Linked DNA regions of Homo sapiens. The protein of the gene in region 4 purifies or fractionates together with the protein of the main gene of each other region. This does not show direct contact. Each region holds a gene or a part of one and is shown on either strand. Other genes may lie near its edges.

What was found.
Region 1: the proteins of TNFRSF13B (region 4) and XPO5 purify together in Homo sapiens (co-immunoprecipitation; 2 studies listed by BioGRID and IntAct, with this or other methods). This does not show direct contact.
Region 2: the proteins of TNFRSF13B (region 4) and DCAF10 purify together in Homo sapiens (co-immunoprecipitation; 2 studies listed by BioGRID and IntAct, with this or other methods). This does not show direct contact.
Region 3: the proteins of TNFRSF13B (region 4) and RNF166 purify together in Homo sapiens (affinity purification with mass spectrometry; 2 studies listed by BioGRID and IntAct, with this or other methods). This does not show direct contact.

What each region holds. Positions count from the first base shown.
Region 1 is NC_000006.12:43,569,539-43,573,038, forward strand, and holds part of XPO5 (exportin-5), read right to left. Parts: intron 3,041-3,500; coding exon 2,968-3,040; intron 1,457-2,967; coding exon 1,319-1,456; intron 1,147-1,318; coding exon 964-1,146; intron 1-963. UniProt on the Homo sapiens protein: Mediates the nuclear export of proteins bearing a double-stranded RNA binding domain (dsRBD) and double-stranded RNAs (cargos). XPO5 in the nucleus binds cooperatively to the RNA and to the GTPase Ran in its active GTP-bound form.
Region 2 is NC_000009.12:37,838,797-37,842,296, forward strand, and holds part of DCAF10 (DDB1- and CUL4-associated factor 10), read left to right. Parts: intron 1-3,292; coding exon 3,293-3,490; intron 3,491-3,500. UniProt on the Homo sapiens protein: May function as a substrate receptor for CUL4-DDB1 E3 ubiquitin-protein ligase complex.
Region 3 is NC_000016.10:88,696,409-88,699,908, forward strand, and holds the end of RNF166 (E3 ubiquitin-protein ligase RNF166), read right to left. Parts: exon of another isoform or gene 3,326-3,500; intron 3,325-3,325; coding exon 3,212-3,324; intron 2,678-3,211; coding exon 2,563-2,677; intron 2,202-2,562; coding exon 2,094-2,201; intron 1,708-2,093; coding exon of another isoform or gene 1,526-1,707; intron 1,226-1,525; coding exon 1,160-1,225; 3' UTR 93-1,159; downstream 1-92. UniProt on the Homo sapiens protein: E3 ubiquitin-protein ligase that promotes the ubiquitination of different substrates. In turn, participates in different biological processes including interferon production or autophagy.
Region 4 is NC_000017.11:16,948,119-16,951,618, forward strand, and holds part of TNFRSF13B (tumor necrosis factor receptor superfamily member 13B), read right to left. Parts: intron 866-3,500; coding exon 620-865; intron 1-619. UniProt on the Homo sapiens protein: Receptor for TNFSF13/APRIL and TNFSF13B/TALL1/BAFF/BLYS that binds both ligands with similar high affinity. Mediates calcineurin-dependent activation of NF-AT, as well as activation of NF-kappa-B and AP-1.

The DNA.
Region 1 (3,500 bases), on a different chromosome or scaffold from region 4:
GCCTGACCAACATGGTGAAACACCATCTCTACTAAAATACAAAAATTAGACGGGCATGGTGGCAGGCACCGGTAATCTCAGCTACCCGGGAGGCTGAGGCAGGAGAATCGCTTGAACCCAGGAGGCGGAGGTTGCAGTGAGCCGAGATTGTGCCACTGCACTCCAGCATGGGTGACAGAGTGAGACTCCCTCTCCAAAAAAAAAAAAAAAATTAGTATTTTCCTAAAGAACTTCTGAAAATAAAATTAAGAATAACACCTAGGGCTGGGCTCGGTGGCTCACACCTATAATCTCAGCACTTTGGGAGAGCAAGGTGGGTAGACCACCTGAGGTCAGGAGTTTGAGACTAGCCTTGCTAACACAGCGAAACTCCATCTCTACTAAAAATACAAAAATTAGCCAGGTGTGGTGGCACATGCCTGTAATCCCAGGAGGTGGAGGCTGCAGTAAGCCGAGATCCCTATCTTTTTTTTTTTTTTTTTTTTTTTTTTTAAAAAAGGCCAGGTGCCGTGGCTCACACCTATAATCCCAGCACTTTGGGAGGCGGGCGGATCATGAGGTCAGGAGATCAAGACCTTCCTGGCTAACATAGTGAAACCCCGTCTCTACTAGAAATACAAAAAATCAGCCGGGCCTGGTGGCGGGCGCCTGTAGTCCCAGCTACTTGGGAGGTTGAGGCAGGAGAATCGCTTGAACCTGGGAGGCAGAGGTTGCAGTGAGCCGGGATCACACCACTGCACTCCAGCCTAGGTGACAGAGCGAGCCTCCGTCTCAAAAAAAAAAAAAAAAAAAAAAGAAAGAAAATGAGCTCCAGTTTTTCTGTCATTTCCTAGTTTTTTATTTTTTTGCTTATAAAATAGGATTTCATTTTGCTGACCTAGACACCCTAGTTCCTTACTGTAAGATTAATCAAAAACACTCATATTGGAAAATAGAAATGTTATAGGTAGGGGTATCCCTTACCACTTGCTGATACTTGTTTACATTTTCTTGAAGTGTGTTAAGCAGAAAACTGAAGATCCTTTCCATGTTCTGGGTTAATGTTTGCTGGATGTCCCTTCTTCTTTGAGGGGGAAGTGTCTGAAAAGTCACTACATCCTCTGCCAGTCGCAAAAGGATAAACATCACCAATTCTGTCTGTGTTTCCTACACCAATAGAAATAAGCTAGTTAAAAACTAAAATATCTTTTCATTTTATGTATATCCAAAGGCTATTTTCTGTTGCCAAAAAAAAAAACCCACAAACAAAATCAAACAACAAACCCTGAAGTTTGTTCCAAGGAAAAGTATACCAAACTGATATAGCTGTGTTTCATACCCCTTGTTTGGAAAGAGTGTCCAATTCTATTAGCATGTCAGGCCAATGCTGTGGCCACTCTCGCTTGATCATTTCCACTACAATTCGAGACAGAGCATCTTTAATATGGTTCTCCTCTTCCAAAATGTTCAATGTTCCCTGAAAAAGAACAAGAGATATTAAGAGATATGCAAGACTGGATTCCAGACTTCCAGAAAAAAGCTGGGCTGTAGAGTTGTAAAAAATTTATCAGCAGGCCTACTTTTAAACCAAACAGAACAAATGAACCTGTTCTTCAGCCTGAGTCACTTGTCCTGCATTCTTGCTAATCACTCTTCCGCTTAAAGCTTAAGTGAGGGTTGCATCACCTAAAAGGCTGTCATATCGAGAGCTAGGATGACATCATTATTCTTTACAAAATGAAAAGATTCTCATATTGATTGTTTCAGTTTGCAGAAGGCCAGGGAGGAAGAGTATAGAAATAAGGAGTATAGTGAGTAGCTGGTAAAATGGAAGGGTATGAAGGGGCAAATGAATATTTTACCAATAGTTCTAACACTAGAAGACGCAGAAGTATTAGAAGATCCCATCTCTCATGTCTGTTATTTAAAAAAAACCAAGAAAGAAAAAAGGCTACAATTTTGAACATGTTTAAAGTCATATTCTGTTTTGTGTTTAAAGAGACAGTCATCCAGTCATCACACCTGTAATCTCAGCATTTTGGAAAGCCAAGGTGGGAGGATTGCTTGAGGCCAGGGGTTTGAGACCAGACTAGCCTGGGAAACACAGTGAGACCCTGTCTCTCTAAAAACCAAAAACAAAATTAGCTGGGCATGGTACCACATGCCTATAATCCCAGCTACTTGGGAGGCTAAGGCGAGAAGATCACTTGAGCCCAGGAGTTCGAGGCTGCAGTGAGCTATGATCATGCTAATGCAATCCAGCCGGAGCAACAGAGACTCTGTCTCAAAAAAAAAAAAAAGTCATATTCTAATACTTGAAACAAATTCATTCTGCATACTTAAAATTCTGCATGTTTTTCATCATTAGTATCACATAGTAGTTGTTTGGAATAAAAGAAAATAGTGTTTCAATCTAATTTAGATCTAAGAATCTTATTGATTTGTTGAAAATATTTAATCCCCTCTGCCCTGTCTTTATAATTTAAAAAATAGAAGTCAATACATAAGCATGATTAATTAAACCTAGTAAGAGACATATGCTGAATTATGCTTTCTGCTTTTGTTTTGTTTTGTTTTTGAGATAGGGTCTTGCTCTGTTGCACAGGCTGGAGTGCCATGGCACCATCACAGCTCACTGCAGCCTGGACCTCCTGGGCTCAGAAAATCCTCCCACCTCAGCCTCCTGAGTAGCTGGGCCACAGGCATGCGCCACCACGCTCAGCTAATTTTTGCATTTTTGGTAGAGATGGGGTCTCACTGCATTGCCCAAGCTGCTCTCGAATTCTTAGATGCAGGTGATCCTCTTACCTTGGCTTCCCAAAGCGCTAGAATTACAGGTGTGAGTCACTGTGCCTGGCCTAAATTATGATTTCTTGTGCTGTCTGACCTATTTAGAAGCAGTGAATTTTTACACAAACTCCCTATTGAAGAAGTCACGCTTTGCCTAAACTACCTTGGAAACATGTCTCCCAACCACCCATTCCTTACATTTGCAATCAGCTCCATGACACTGTTCTTCAGATACACCTTCTCCAATCGAGACATGCCGTTCCACCGAAACCTGACCACCAAAATGCATAAAGTCAATAGAACCACTTTAGAAGTCTTGTCTTTACAAGAGAATAGCATGGATTTCTACATTTGATTACACTGGAGATTTCATTAAGAAATTATACTTTTGATTTTGTACCTGTCAATGAATGGGCAAAAATGATCTACATTTAACCAAAATACTAACACAAAAATTCTTGGGAAAAGGTTTTATATATGCAGTGGTCCATTAACTGGAATCCGCACAAGATTTGTACCACACGTCAGCTTTGCCTCATGATTTTATTGATGGGCCAAAAGTGAATATACATCTAGGTCAACTGCAACAATGTACTTGCTTTTCAGAAAATGCAGTTTTGACATCAGTCATTTTCTGTGCTGGCTTACAAAACAATTCTGGAAAAACTATGGCTAAGTCTTAAAGGCTACCTCTTCTGATAGGTGTTGAGGGTAGGACAATCAAGTTAGGA
Region 2 (3,500 bases), on a different chromosome or scaffold from region 4:
ATGAGAATCACTTGAATGTAGGAGGTAGAGGTTGCAGTGAGCACCTGGGGGATAAAGCGTGACTCTGTCTCCAAAAAAAAAAAAATTAAAAAGAAAAAAGGTTTCAGTTCTTCATACAGTGAACACTATTCAGCCATTAAACATGATTTTGTTAATAAACCTTTAATAATGGCAATATGTTTTTGAGATAATATTAGGTTTAAAACAGAAATTAAGCTAAACATCAATAAAGTGGTTATTTTTGGTGATGGATTTTTTTTTTCTTTTTCTTTTTTTTGAGACGGAATCTTGCTCTGTGCCCCAGCTGGAGTGCAGTGGCACGATCTCAGCTCACTGCAACATCCGCCTCCCGGGTTCAAGCAATTCTCTGCCTCTGCCTCAGCCTCCGAGTAGCTGGGATTACAGGCGCCCGCCACCATGCCCAGCTAATTTTTTTTGTATTTTTAGTAGAGACAGGGTTTCACCATCTCGGCCAGGCTGGTCTTGAACTCCTGACCTTGTGATCCACCCGCCTCAGCCTCTCAAAGTGCTGGGATTACAGGCGTGAGCCACTGCGCCCAGCCGATTTTTTTTCATTAAAAATATTTTCAGTAGAAATGTTTTTTGTTATCGTTATTTTTAAAATAAGAGATGGGGTTTCGTCATGTTGCCCAGGCTGGTCTCAAACTCCTGAGCTCAAGTGATCCATCCATCTTGGCCTTCCAAAATGTTGGGATTATAGGTATGAGCTACCACGCTTGGCCAGGAAATGTATTTTTATAATTAAAAAATAGTTACTGGTAATCACCATAGAATAAATCCATAATGTATTCCCTAGTCATCTCTACTTTCCCACACACAGCACTCCTAACTGCTGCTTCTCAGAGGGCACCATCCGCTCACATGCCTGTGTATCTTTGCTTAGTAACCCTGACCACTTAGGGAGTTCCTGCTCATCTTTTATTCAGTTCAAATGATAACATCATGAAGTCTTTCCCAGCCACCCTCTTTGCTTATTCCACACAATTATTTCGTGTAATTATGTACTTACAGTGTCTTTTCTGCTAGGCAGTGAACTTCTCTTTCATTTATTTTGTAAGTATTTGTTGAGTGCATATGTGTCTGGCACCATGTGTATTGTATACTGCAGATCTAACCATGACCCTAGGCAGACAGGTTCCTTCTGTCTTCAGGGAGTTTACAGTAAAGTTGTTCCTTACAGTATAATATTAAGTATTATGATAGAAGCTCCCAGAATGCTTTGGGAGCTCAGAGAATTGGTAGGTCTACCAGGCTGGTTAAACAAGGAAGGCTTCCTGGAGGGCATAACAGCTGAATACAGTTATATGCCACATAACAACATTTCAGTGAGTGACACCATATACAACAGTGGTTCCAGAAGATTATAATGGAGCTGAAAAATTCCTATTGCCTAATACTTACTATGTTATACTTATTATTGTTATTTTAGAATGTACTCCTACTTAAAAAAAAATTAAACTGTAAAACAGCCTCAGGGAGGTTCTTCAGGAGGTATTCCAGGAGAAGCCATTGTTATCAGGAGATGACAGCTCTGTTCCTGTTATTGCCCCTGGAGGCCTTCCAGTGGGGCAAGATGTGGAGATGGAAGACAGTGATATTGATGATTTTTACCCTGTGTAGAACTAGGCTAATGTGTGTCTTTGTTTTTAACAAAAAAGTTTAAAAAGTAAACATTTTAATAGAAAAAAGTTAATAAAATAAGGCTATAAAGAAAGAAAATATTTTTGTACAGTTGTACAATGTGTTTGTGTTTAAGCTGTTATTACAAAAGAGTCAAAAGTTTAAAAAATTAAAAATTCATGAAGTAAAAAAAGTTATAGTAATCGAAGGTTAATTTATTACTGATGAAAAATTTTTAAATTAATTTAGTGTAGCCTAAGTGTACAGTCTTTATAATGTCTACAGTAATGGACAGTAATGCCCTAGGCCTTCACACTGACTCACCCCTCACTCACTGACTCACCCAGAGCAACTCCCACGCCTGCAAGCTCCATTCATGGTAAGTGCCCTATACAGGCGTAACATTTTAAATCTTTTATACAGTACTTTTACTGTATTTTTTCTATCTTTCAATATACAAATACTTACGATTGTGTTACAGTTGCCTACAGTATTTAGTATGGTAACATGCTGTGCACATTTGTAGCCTATGAGTGATAGGCTATATACCATATATACCATATAACCTCAGTGTGTACCATCTAGGTTTGTGTAAGTTCATTCTATGATGTTCACACAACAACAAAATCACCTAAGGACACATTTCTCAGAATGTATTCCATCATTAAGTGACACATGATGGTATTAAAAAGAAAGCAAGAATTAGCCAGATCCAGGGGCAGGAGGAAGGTTGTTTCACCTAGCAGAAACAACCTGTGTAAACGCCTGGTATTTGAAAACCGTGATCAATTTTAGGAAGGTCGTTATGGTGTTTGTGGATATTGAGGTTGATTTCTGACAATTATATGTAAATTTATCTTAGAAGAAGCACCAGAATTCATTTCTTCTGTAAGAGATTAGGATAACAGCATGTATTACAGAAAGCATCCTAATGTTAAATTAAGCAAAAATTCAAGTGTGAATAGTAGTTTATTTTTTAAGTATTTGTATTAAATATATTCTCACTAAGGATTGAGAAGTTAGTGTAAAATAATAAAAAGTCTGAATTATAGAGTATTTTAAGCCTATTTTGTAATTTTCTTGATTGGTCCTAATAAAATGTTGCTAAGAGATTATTTGGGAAATACCTTTCAGTTAAAAGATTTAAAATAATGGCAATTTTATAGCAATTTTTGTATGTAACTGTGTTCTAAATAGAAAAAGATGTTCCTTGTAGCAGAGCAAATATTTCTCATGATTTTGATTATGTGTAATGTGTCCCTCTCGGCAATCAAGTCTTCAAAACTTCCTCTATCGCCTATTAAATTCTCTCTCATCATTTTTGTTTCCTATAGAGATTCTGAAGTTCTTTTTTTCCCTTCTGTCACTGTTTTCCAAACACTTACCCCTATTTCCAATTTCAAATAAAAATCAGTAATTTAAAGCAAATGGATCCAATTGCAATATGACTGTCATTAAATCATAGTATCCTGGCTCTGTGATTATGCAAAGTATACTTTTTATAGTATATCAGTCATTGGGTTTACATAGTGAGTGTGTAGTCCTTTTTTTCTTTCTTTCTTGACTAGGTAATATAGTGACTGTTTCTCAAATCAATTTTCCTTTAAAAAGAGATTAAATGAACCAGGGTTTTGTTTTTCTGCTTTTATAGATTTCTTGATAACCGGCTGTTTGCTACCTGCTCTGATGACACTACAATAGCACTATGGGATCTGAGAAAATTGAACACCAAAGTATGCACTTTACATGGTCACACTAGCTGGGTGAAGAACATCGAATATGATACTAATACAAGACTCTTAGTAACATCAGGATTTGATGGAAATGTCATTATTTGGGACACTAACAGGTTTGTGAAT
Region 3 (3,500 bases), on a different chromosome or scaffold from region 4:
CTGCCTGGGGAGGACACAGCCGACCTCCAACACAGACAGCAGCTGGCGATTCCACACCGTGGAGCACAAAAGCCAGTCGAGGCTGCTAGAGATGCTCTGAGACATTTTATTTAAACTTTTTTTTTTAAAAAAAAGACAGCAATAATTAATGCCAAGAACAGAAAAGAATGTTGACGTGTTGCCCGGCCCGCCAAGCGGGCCCCTGCCCAGGCCCCCAAGCTCTGCCACCACTGGGGTGCCGTCCCCTCCCGCAGCGGGGCACAGTCAGCTTTGAAGGTGACAGCGGGCCAAGGCCAGGACTCTGGGTGGAGGAGGCCCCTTCTCTGCCGGCCCCGCCTCTGCTGGGAGCAGCCACAGCCTGTGGCTGGGGTGCTGGGATTTCTTCCTGGTCATCAAAGAGAAACGTACAAACCTCAAGGACCCAGACACACAGTGGGTGGCCAGGGCAGACCCCACAGCAGACCCCATGGCTCGCCTGAGCTCTGGCAGCTGCCCCACTGCTCCTTCCATCCTTGCCCCAATCCCCCAATGCTTGTTTTGATTGTTTTCTTAAAAAATATAATTTTGTAAATGTTCCATAAAAATACTATTATTCCTAGTCAAACACAGATATTGCAATATGAAGAGTAACTGCTCTGTCTTTGCTCTATAAAACGTGAAAAGATTATCACACTGGATAATATAGAAAAGATGCCAGGGTTCCTAAGTATCACAAAAGCCAGTACCAAATGCGCAAGGTGGAAGTGGGGCCGGGGCAGGGTCGGGCTGGGCAGGGCAGCAGCCTGGGTTCCTCCCGGCTCGACTGCGGAGCGCGACTCGCGCGTCGGTCCCTTCTTCCCACGAGGGGGTATCATGGCTTTGAAGAGACGGCGGCAGCTCCAGGTCCCAGCGTCCAGCCCTGCCCAAGTAGGCCGCCTGCTCGGCCAGAAGCACCGAAGAACCCAGCGACGCCGGTGGGACCAGGCGGCCCTGCTCTGGCGGCCTCGGCGGCTGGCCCGTATTCAGGCCCGGAGGCTCGGCCCCGGCTCCCCTTCTGCGCGGGTGCAGGCTCCTCCTGTGAGCTCAGTCCGGTGAGGTGCGCTCCCGAGCAGGTGCCAGGTGCGACACAGGAGCGGGGACATCCCTGACCCCAGACGCAGGCGGGTGGCTGCGCTTCCCTTCAGTTCTCAGAGAGAGACAGGGCCAGAGCAGCCTGGAAGGCGGCCTCCTCGTCAATACTGTAGTCCTGGAGACAGGAAGGAGAGATGCACCGGGCTCGAGGGAGACAGGAAGGAGAGGTCCCCTCTGCCCATCACCCACACAGGCGTGTCCACCCTTCCTGCCTCCCTCCAGCAGGACACAGGAAGGACCCAGCTCCACTGTCCCCACAGGCTCGGGGCCTGCACGGTCCTCTGGGGGGTGAGAAGGTGAAGGTGTGTCCATCACCCGCTGGGTACGGGGGCACTCGGAATGGATGGCTGCTGGTTCAGGTCGGACTCTAAGCCCGGGGTTTCCGAGGTGAGCAGGCCGGCCAGGGCTCCCTGACCTCTAACAATTTCCATCCTGAGGCAGGCGGAGCGTGGGTCCCGGACGACTGGCAGAGGGAGTGACAGCCATCGCCAGGACTGTTAGCCAGGGCCAGGAATGAACAGGGCGGCGCAGGGAGGGGCCGCACCAGGAGTGAGGAGTTTGTGCGAGGGTCTGCAGGCCCGGGGGCCAGGTGTGTGCCTGACCCGCGGCGGGTGGGAAAAGGAGACAGGGCTGGAGTGTTCGATGTTGATGAAAGTCCTTCCCGCGCTCTCTAGAAAGCTTCCAGAAGGAAGCCTGGCTCACCCTCGAGGGGTTCTGTGGGGTGGGCAGGCAGGGACCTGCCCTGTGCGGTCCATGTCCCCGAGAGGCCTGGGCACCCTCTAGTGGCCACTCAAACTCAGCTGCCATCACTCCCCACCTGCAGGCAGCCCCCACAGAACCTGGGGGAATGTGGCCACCTGAAACGAGGCTTCTGTTTCTGGCTTCCTCTGAACCCTGCGGACCCTGAGGCTGGCGAGGGGCCCGAGCAGGAGGAGGGTGGATGAGGAGGGCGTGGGGGAGGACGGTGCTGGCGGGATGCCTACCACAAAGGTGTCGTAGGAGAACTTGTGTCGGTGAAGCAGGTGCTGCAGGAAGTTGGCGCTCTTGTAGCTGGGGTCCCCCCAGGGCATTGCCGAGCAGATGGGGCACACCTGGAACAGGCACTGGGGTCAAGCCGAGCCGGACCGCGGAGAGGCGGGGTAGCCGCAGTAGGACTGGGGGCCCTCCACTGAGCCCCGTCAGTGCTGCCTCAGCCTGGGAAGGCACCCCAGACCTGGAGGCGCGTGTCCCGGTGACAAGCGAGTTATTCAGTGCGCGTCACCCTGAAGGACTCATGGACACTCCCCGGTTTCCGCCAGGTGCTGCTCGGGCAGCCAAGTTCCCACCCTGGGTCCCAGGAGGCCTTTGTGGCCTGGGCACCCCCGGACTCGCCGCGAGCAGGCTCCTGGGCCTTGTACTGTCCCCCACAGGCCTCCCCTGGCGCAGGCGTCGCTTGGGGCAGGCACTGCTCACCACGCGGTTGGGGTCGCTGCGGTGGCTTTCCACACAGTGCTTCACCAGCTCCTGCTGGTCCAGGTTGCGGGCACCACAGTACGGGCAGGCGAAGGTGGACCTGTTGGGGATGTTGCTGGCGGGGCGGGGGTAGAGTGAGTGGCACGGCTAGGTGTCTAGGGGCTCTGCCTCCCCGCTTCTCTCAAACACAGGCGTGGCCCCAGGCCTGCCCTCTGTAGGCTGCAAGAGCGTGGCAGTGGCTGGGTGCCCCCCGTGCCTCTGCACGCCATGGCCTCCTGAGGACACACCCAGGACCCTCGTCCACCCCACACAACTAGGCCAGCCAAACGGCAGAGACTCTGCTGGCGCTGCCCTGGCAGGAGCCGTCTCTCGGCCCATCCACCTGCTGGGAGGCGATGTGTGGGCCCGGCCTGCGCCCTCCTCCTGCTCCCCACAGCTGAGCTGTCCCTACCCCAGGGGGCCTGGTGGGTATGCCAGGGAGGGCAGCACAGGAGCCTTCCTGCAGGGTGGCAAGGAAGGTCCACTTCCCCAGAGTGGACCCGGCCCCGGGTGACTCCCCCAGCCTCTCTGGGATGGGGCACTGCGCTTGCTCCCAGAACGAGGAAACCGCCGAGGACAGTTCCTCTCCCTTGCCCGGCAGCGTGCCTACCTGGGGATAGGCTGTGATGTGGGCACCACGGGGACGAACTTGGGGCAGTTGGCCATCTGCTCCTGGACCTTCAGGCAGGACGAAATGTGCACTCTCATCTTTGCCAGGGTCACCTAGGAGACAGGGCAGGGAGGGCAAGGCGGTCCTGAGAATCTGGAAGGGCCGTCCTGGGGAGGCCGAGACCTCAGGTGTCCAGGACCAGAGAACTGTAAGCAAGCGTCTGTGTTGCCAGCAGCAGGGGGACCCGGTCCCTTCTGCTGCTAAAACAATCTCAGGCACTGAGCAGCCA
Region 4 (3,500 bases):
GTGAAATGCTAAGTGTCGAATACAGATGGACATAAAGACAGGAACAACAGACACTGGGGCCTACTAGAAGGGGGAGGCAGAGAGAGAGGGCAAGGGCTGAAAAACTACCTATTGGGTGCTATGCTCACCACCTGGGTGACAAGACCATTTGTACCTCAAACCTTAGCATCAAGCAACATACCCATGTAACAAACCCTACACATGTACCCCCGGATCTAAAAAAAAAAGTTGAAATTATAAATAAAATAATAATAGAAATAAATGGAGTCTGCAGCACTGGTGGAGGGCAGGTGGTGGCTGCTGCTCAGGTGCTCACACAGGTGGGTCTGCTGCTTACTTGTGCCTGTGCTTCAATGACTGGCACAGCCTCGGCAGCCTCTAGTGCAAGGCTCTTCCTCACACGGCAGGTCCTTTCTCCTGCTTTCTTCTTGTCCACAGACTTCTGGAAATGTTGCCTACATTGTTTTTTTTATCCTGGGATGATCTCCCTGGCTTCTGGCCATTTGCTTGGACTCTGGGCTTCATGCATTGTGGACTCTCCTGTTCTAGGCCTGGCATCAGGCCTCCCACGCTTTCTCACCCTGCGTGACACCATGCAGGTTTGCCTTGGGTGGCTTACCTGGACTTGCTTCTGAGCCTCTGTGCTCCAATCCTTGGTACCTTCCCGAGTTGTCTGAATTGTTTTCAACTTCTCCACTCCGCTGTCTCCTGAGCTCTGGTGGAAGGTTCACTGGGCTCCTGAGCTTGTTCTCACAGAAGTATGCACATTGCTTAGGGTGCTGTCCACAGATGGAGGCACAGCTGATGCAGTCCCTCAGGAGATGGTCATAGAACTTGCCTTGCTCCTTGCGGCAGCTGAGTGACCCTGGGAGAGAGAAATTCATGATACTGCTGGGTGACACAGACTAGCAGGAACTCTGGGTTTGACCACAAAGGACATCAAAGTTAAAAAAAAAAATACAGTAAAATTCCAGAAGGCAATTCCAGAGTAAGCCAAGTACTTTTACAATATACACATTGAAGACTATGCATTGTCCTCTAAGTACTATTTTAGCTGCATTGCATTTTGATGTGTAGTATTTTTCCTCTACCTAGATCAAAATGCACTTATTTTTCATTATTATCTTTTCTTTGACCTATGGGTTATTTACAAGTGCATTTCTTAGTTTCCAAACGTATGAAGATTTTCAGTTATCATTTAAAATTTAGATCTGGATTACATTGTTACATAAGACTTTTACTTGCATTTTTCAAGCCTCATCAAGGAGAAATATATTTCAAATCAGCATAAGGAAAGAAGGGGAAAAGCCAGAATCCTCTTTGACAAGCTGGGGGAGGGGGCTGGAAGGAAGGTGGAAAAGTTCACATGAATAGTGTTTCTTCTGTCTTAATACTAGATGAGAATTACAGCAGCTTACACAAGTATCAGTGCCAAGGCACAGAAGCCAAGGAAACTAAAGCCAAATCACACTTGCCTTAAGAGAGCACAGTGGACCCAACTTTGAATGCATAAAGAAACCTATTTGGAACAATCAATTATCTTATCTAAAGTCTCAGAATATTTCTAATTTTTTTTTTTTTTTTGAGAAGGAGTTTCGCTCCTGTCACCCAGGCTGGAGTGCAATGGCACGATCTCGGCTCACTGCAACCTCTGCCTCCCAGGTTCAAGCAATTCTCCTGCCTCAGCCTCCCGAGTAGCTGGGATTACAGGCGACCACCACAACACCCGGCTAATTTTTGTATTTTTAGTAGAGATGGACTTTCGCCGTGTTGGCCAGGCTGGTCGTGAACTCCTGACCTCAGGTGATCTGCCTGCCTCGGCCTCCCAAAGTGCTGGGATTACAGGTGGCATGAACCACCGCATCTGGTCTAGCCTCCGAATATTTCTACATGGAAGTTTTTACGTGAAAAAGGCAAGTTTCCTTTGTATTTAGAGTAAGGTATGGCTTTTGAGATGTCCTGACTTCGTAAATATGAATAAATAAATAAATAAATATGTATAAATAAAATATATGTGGCTCACACATATATTTTAAGGACACATTTTGGAGACAGTGCAGGATAGTGGATAAGAACCCAAATTTCAGAACCAAATTTCAGTTGGGGCCATCCCTGGCTGTACCACTTGCAGGCAGTGTGGTCTTAGCCTCTCCGTGCCTCAGTTTCCTCATTTCCAACATAGGGAAAATAACAGTACTGACTTCTTCGTAGGGTTGTTGGCAGAGTTGTAGGGCCCAGCACAGTGCCTGGCACATACTAAATGCTCACGTAATGGAAAGCTTAAGTAGAATATTCATTTGAGCCTCTTCACAAAGCAAACAGATCCGTTCTTGTGTCTTTGACAGAGTAAAGGAAGGAACTAAAAGATCACGGAATTGGGACCTTAGGGAAAACTCAGATGGCCCACATAGGGCCAGTGACCTCCCCTGCTCTGGCCCTGCCCTATCCCCAGGGCGCCCCTGAACCGCACAGAAACTGACACCTCCACTCTGCATCACACAGGGTTAGCCCAGCATTGGTGTCCTTGGGGCTTTCTGTGACCTCCTCCCCTGTTGCAGGTGGTGCTGTTGCAGGTGGTGCCTGAGTGCCCCAGCCCACTGACCCTCCCTGCCTGACCTCACACCCCTCCCTGCCTGACCTCACACCCCTCCCCTCCCCCGCCTGGGACTCAGTCCTCCCCACTGTGTTTCCCTCCTCTGAGCCTCTGCTCATAGTGCCCTTTCTTCCAGGTGCCCATCTGATTTCCGCATTCTGTGACCTCTTAACAATCTGCCTCTGATGGTGCTTCCTCTAGGGACACCTCCCTGCTCCCCAGCCCTTTAGCTGAAGGGGGTCTCTCCCAACTGTGGCTTTCTACCTTGACACATAGTCATTTCTCCCATTAGATGACACTGTCTTTGAAGGGCCACGGCAGATTCCTATTTCCATGGGGCTGGAGCACTCCATCTATGTTTGTGGGATGAACCAATGAATGTTCTAATTCATTAATGGGTAGTGGTTCAGGTCATGATTTAGGAGTCGGAGTCCTGGGTTCAAACCAGGATGTCGCTGTGACATCTCCACTTTTAAACTGGGTGATCTTGGGTGAGTCACTCAGCCTCTCTGAGTTCCCCGCAATAAGTATTCATGAAGGACTTACTATGTGTCAGGCACTGTGCTAGGCTCAAGTCAGACATGGTTCCCCTGCCAGGGAGCTCCCAGTCTAGTGGTTGAGTCAGACATAAAACACATACACATGAAAGAACAAAACAGCAAATTGTGGTAAGTTCTATCAAGGAAAAGAACAGGTTATGAAAAAGAACAGCAAGCAACGAATAATTTTCAAGACAATCAGGGAAAACTGGATATTGCCTGAGTATTAGATGATGTTAATAAATTATTGCTGGCAGTGATAGGATATTTGGATTATGTTTCACAGGTTTTCGTGGTCCAGTATCTGCAGGTAAAATTATATGAGATCTTGGCTGTGCTTTAAAATACACAAGGCAGGCTGGGTGCAG